Linked DNA regions of Homo sapiens: region 2 is linked to region 1. The links come from fine-mapping of genetic effects on gene expression. A gene starts in region 1. The other region holds a variant in brackets. All regions are shown on one strand. Distances are between the middles of the regions.

What was found. PIP is the estimated chance that this variant, and not a neighbour inherited with it, causes the effect.
Region 2: its variant is fine-mapped to the expression of FASTKD3 in monocytes (Fairfax 2014, PIP 0.95).

What each region holds. Positions count from the first base shown.
Region 1 is chr5:7,867,224-7,869,971 of GRCh38, reverse strand. It overlaps FASTKD3 (FAST kinase domains 3), which reads left to right and starts at 941. Exons shown (of 7, transcript NM_024091.4): 1 at 941-993; 2 at 1,776-2,748. The coding sequence starts at 1,889. MTRR (5-methyltetrahydrofolate-homocysteine methyltransferase reductase) reads right to left here and starts at 824. Exons shown (of 15, transcript NM_002454.3): 1 at 757-824. RefSeq lists silencers at 322-371, 432-481, 492-931.
Region 2 is chr5:7,930,052-7,933,069 of GRCh38, reverse strand. No RefSeq gene overlaps it. Among named protein-coding and RNA genes, the nearest start is that of MTRR, 62 kb to the right of the region's middle. The variant C/A (reference allele first, on the strand shown) is at 1,788.

The DNA of each region.
Region 1 (2,748 bases):
AGCTTGGCTTTCGGTGAATGAACCGCCCAGAACGGCACCTGGCATGAAACTGGTACTCGATAAGTTATCTGAATGAGTGAATAAACAATATGAAAACACTACACATTGACAGCTCACAGAAAACGGTGGAAACGATAATGAAAACCTTACTACAGCTAAAATTTCTATCACTTCCCATGAAACACACATCCTGAGGGCTTCCCAGGATCAATCAACCCCTCATCCCTGCTACTGCCCCACAATCCGGCACCACCTTCCCACGACTCTCAGCGGAGGCCCGGGCCCCAGCAGCCCCGGAAGCGGCGCGGAGGCGGTGGGCAGAGCTCACGGCCGCGGGCAGAACTCACGGCCGCGTCCCGCCGGGTGGGCGCTCGGAACGTCCCGGGTTCCCCGGAGCGCGCCGCCCCAACCCGGCATGTTCCCCAGTTCCCCGCGTCCCCGAGTGCGGTTTCCCTAGGCCTGGAAAGCGCCTAGAACCAAAGGCAGAACATGAGGAGAGACCCCACGCCGCCCAGGGGCCTCCCGCGGCAGAGGCCGACGCCGAGCCCAAGGACACGCTCCCGGGGACACCAAAGCCAAAGGCCAAAGGCCAAGTCCGAGCCCCAGCCCGCGCCCGCGGCGACCCCCGGAGGCCGAAGGGCGTGGGAACCACGGGCGCAAGCCGGCTGCCCACCCCCGCCCCGGGCCGCCTCTCCCAGGAGATTAGTGCAGGGCGAGCGGCCGGAATCCGGGAACCGTAGCCGACAGGCAGCTTACCCACGCCGCGCCAGCCGGGCACGAACCTGCACAACGCGACTTCCACCAACCTTGCGCCAGCGCGCACTGACGCAGCGCCCATGCTCGGTACCCAGGACCAATAGAAAGCTCCGAAGGGGACCTGGGCCAATCACATTGCGCCGCCCTGAGTCGTGCTCCCGCCCCGCGTTTGCTACGGAGGCCCACGACGCCCAGGCGCTTCCGCGACCACCCGGAGTGATTGCCCGGCAGAGCGCGGTAGGTGTCAACGCGGGGTCTCCGCGCAGTTGGTCCGGCTGGGTGTCAAAGACCTGGCCGGCTTTCTCCTCAGGCTGCGCCGCCCGGCCCGTGTCTCAGCGCAGGTCCCCGGGGCGCCGAGTTTGGGGGTGCTCGCCCCGCGGGTCCCTTTCATTCCTAGGAAAACGCGCCGCGGGGCCTCCCGTCTGTCTGTCTTGCACACACGTGTTGCCAAATCCCCCCGCACCGTCTTTAGATCTGGACTGGCCGCCCCACCTTCTCCCTTCATTGATCTATGTTTTGCTTTTTCTTTTCCTACCTTGTTTCCATTGACAAAGTAGACCCTTTCCTTCAACACTAACCTTCTCCCGACACCGAGGGGAAACCAACAGCTTAGGGCCTTTCCAGCGCGTTTTTACCCTTGCCTTGCTCTAACCTCGCCTAATTTTGCCCACTTTACCTGTTCTTTGATTTCTATCCAAATGCAATTTCTTCCTTCAACCAACATTTAAGGGCCACCCTTAAGAGCTACATTGCCTGAGTTTGAACCCTAGCTCTGCCACTTAACCACCTGCATAAACTGGGCAAAGTAACTTTGTGCTTCAACTTCTTCCTCGTGTAAAATGATAGTAAAAGTACTGAATCTGTGTAAGTTAATAGAATACCTACAACAGTGTTTAGCAAGTAATAGCGATTGTTATTGTTCAATGTCAGCCACTCTTCTAACTCTAGGATGCAGAGACTTTGCCCCTCTGGTGTTTATATGTTAACCATCCTTTTTTTTTTTTTTTTTTTTTTTCCAGATACTCGTTTGTAGTTTCATAAACATTGATGTTGGGTCAATCATGTTCTCAATGTATTTAACCATGTGTTTTTAAATTTTTTAATTTAGTTATCAAATTGAGAATCTGATGGTATGGCATTAATCACCTTGAGGAAGAACCTTTATCGTTTATCTGATTTTCAGATGCATAGAGCTCTGGCTGCTTTAAAAAATAAACCTCTAAATCATGTTCACAAGGTAGTCAAGGAGCGTCTGTGCCCTTGGTTGTGTTCACGACAACCTGAGCCTTTCGGGGTCAAATTCCATCATGCCCATTGTAAAAAGTTTCATTCGAAAAATGGAAATGACCTTCATCCACTCGGTGGACCAGTGTTCTCTCAAGTATCTGACTGCGACAGGCTTGAACAAAATGTTAAAAATGAGGAGAGTCAGATGTTTTACAGGAGACTGAGCAACTTGACTTCATCAGAAGAAGTGCTAAGTTTTATAAGCACGATGGAAACCCTGCCTGACACTATGGCAGCAGGAGCTTTACAACGAATTTGTGAAGTGGAAAAAAAGGATGGTGATCAAGGGCTGCCAAAAGAAATACTGGAGAATAGCATCTTTCAAGCTTTATGCTTTCAGTTTGAAAAGGAGCCCTCACAGCTGTCAAACACTAGTTTAGTGACTGCTTTGCAAGCTCTGATTCTGTTGCATGTGGATCCTCAAAGTAGCCTGTTGCTGAACCTGGTGGCAGAATGCCAAAATCGTCTCAGAAAAGGTGGCATGGAAGTTCGCAATCTTTGTATTCTTGGGGAAAGTCTGATTACACTGCACAGTTCAGGTTGTGTGACACTAGAACTCATTATAAATCAACTTCAAGGTGAAAAATTGGAAACATTTACCCCGGAGGATATTGTGGCCCTTTATAGAATCTTGCAGGCATGTACTGAAAAAGTGGATGAACACCAAACATTTTTAAATAAGATAAACAACTTTTCCCTATCAAT
Region 2 (3,018 bases), 63 kb before region 1:
CACACCAACATGGCACATGTATACATATGTAACAAACCTGCACATTGTGCACATGTACCCTAGAACTTAAAGTATAATAATAATAAAAAATAAATTAAAAAAAGAAAAAGTAAAAAAAAAAAGTTATACAGAAATTAGAACTGTGACAAGTGTCCCCAGAAAGTTTTGGCAGGAACCCCAAACTTTCCAGCCTAAAGAAGAAATGCATTATGAAAGAGGTTCCAGTAGAGGTGGCAGATAGCACTGCATATACCCACCACATGACGGTTCATGTAACAGCAAGAGGAGGAGTGAGAGGCATGAAAACACGAGCAAAAGCTATAGAGTCACAGGAAAACAAAAGTTCTTCCACGGCTGGCGAGAATATAGCTTAGAATATAGCTAAAATTGTTCTAAACCAATCGCTCTTCTGCTAAATGATAATTTTAAAAGGTAACAACAATGACACACCACTGTACACCCACTAGGATGACTAAGTTCCAAAACATCGACAATATCAATTGCTGGTGAGGATGTGGAGCAACAGGAACTCTCATTCATTGTTGGTGGGAATGCAAAGTCATACAGCCTCTTTAGAAGACAATTTTGTACTTTCCTGCAAAGCTAAACATAACCTTATCATATGATCCAGCAATAGTGCTCCTGTTGGTTTTCCCCAACAGAATTAAAAATGTATGACCACACAAAAACTGGCATGCAAATGTTTATAGCAGCTTTTTTTCATAATCATCAAAAACTAGAAGAAATCAAAATGTCCTGGTTATGGATCCGTTTGTGAGAAATGTATCTCTTTTTTTTTCTTTTTGGGAACCTCTATGAATGATGTTATCCCACTCTGAAATGCTTATCAATGATCAGTGATAACAAGACAGGAGAGTTCCCTGGTTCCCCTCACAGGGCATGCAATCCCCTCACAGGGGTGCTGCCCTCTGTTCCACCGCCGTGAGCTCAAACCCCCCTTACGGGAGGGGGACCACACAGACGGGAAGGTGCAGGAGCTGGGGTGAGAGCTTTGGGCTCTGGCCCCACAGTAGCATCTGGGGTGGGTGCCTGCAACCCCAGTGTTACAATGCTCTTTTAGCTCTGCCTTGCAGACGGCTTAAGTGTTAACCAGCTCTGTGCCCCCTCTGCCTTTCTGCAAGGGCAGAGGGACAGTGTGACAACTTTCTGTATCCTGAGCTCTTGTCCAGCATCCTGGAAGAATTGGGTCACACAGGGACTTGAAGAGTGGAGAATGCGGGCGCTTTATTGAGTGGTGGAGGTGGCTCTCAGTAGGATGGATGGGGAGCTGGAAGGGGGATAGAGTGGGATCTTCTCCTAGAGTTTGGCCACCCAGCAGCTAAACTCCTCTCTGACCATCCACAGCCAAGCTCCTCTTGGCATTCAGAGACTCCTCCTCTTCTCTCTTTCTCTGTTGCATCATTTTGCTGTTTATCGGCTTGTCTCCTCATCTTCTCACCTGCTTCTGGAGCCTGGGGTTTGGCGTTTATAAGGGTATAGGATAGAAGGCATGGTGGGCCAAAAGGCAGCTTTTTGGGCACAAAAACAGGAATGCCTGTTCTCACTTAGGGCCACAGGTATTCAGGCTTGAGGGTGGAGCCTTTGCCAGCAACCCACCCTCTTCTATCCAGTATTTCCCTGTCTCCTGTCTGTATCAATGAGACCATGAGGATCATAAAAACCCTTACTTGCAGCTACCCTGACACCCCAAGGTACATCCTGAAATGCTGTTGCCTCCATACGGAGGGAAACGGGGGTGGGTGAACTGAGCAGGCAGGAAGGCAGCA[C/A]TGACATAAAATCAAAGGCACCAGAGCTGAGCATCTCCTGCTCCCCTGGCTTGGATGCAGCAAGTAACAGAGGAAACCAGGGATCACACTTCGTATGGATCCAGCGGACTCCAGAAAGCCAGCTTTACACAGCATTACTGCTCTTGGTAGGGGGTGATTGCCACAAATTAGTTACACTGGGGAGATGGAAAATAAAATATTAATTTTCATTAATATCAGTTCTTTCAATATTTTTCATAACATGAAAAATACATGTTGTTTTTAATTATATTTCACTATTTTCAATACTTTCCCTAATTGTCATCCATAAATATTCAAGATTTTTCTTTGCAGAGAAAGAGGAGGTGTGGAGTCTATCCAAAAGCTAAACAAGTTGTTGGTTATTTTACAGACTGGCTCTTCAGGACGTCACTATGGACCAGTCAGGTGGGCTTCCAGGCCAACAGCATGGCAGGTAGCTCCCTGGAATGTCATGAAATCCAAAAGTCAGAATAAGGCGAGTTTAGCAGCAATCTGCAGAACACGTCCCCGCTTCATTGTGCCTGCGCCTCTGCTCCGCTGCCTCCACCAGCAATGGCACAGAAACTGCATCAGCAGCAAGGTGGGGTGCCTACTGTAGCTTCTGCAGGTGCAGACCAGGTGGAATTCCTGAGCTTCCAAGATTAAAACACACAAGCTGCTTCCAAGAATTCCATAGTGTTATTCAGACAGAGGAACATGGGAGATCCATGGTGAATATCTGTGTGGTCACATTTATTTTCTTCATTTTATCAAATGCCACGAACCCAGGCACTCCTGGGGCGGGGATGAGGGGAATGGATTCTCAGACTAAATGCCTGTTACCTCGAATTAAACATCTTGAATATTCTCAATCAAAAGTGAGAAGATGTCTTGTTCCTAAAGACTTTTTCAAATAAAAATAAGACTATTCCAAAAGTATAAGACTATTACTTAAGAAAAAAAAAAAAGCTCAAGAAAACAATCCACTTCTTAGAGGAAACTGGCGAAACACAATCATCAACTTCACGCTGTGACCTGCAGTGCTTCCCATGGCTCCCCCAGCTGTGCTCCTGTATTATAGACTGAATTGTCACTCGGCCATATGTAATTCTTGTTGCATTTAAAGGATGTGATTTTTGGCAAGGATGGGCACTCATGGCTTGAAGTGTGCTTGCAATATATCACTCTTCACCTCTGAAGCCTCGGAAACGTGGGGAGGCACTGAGCATAT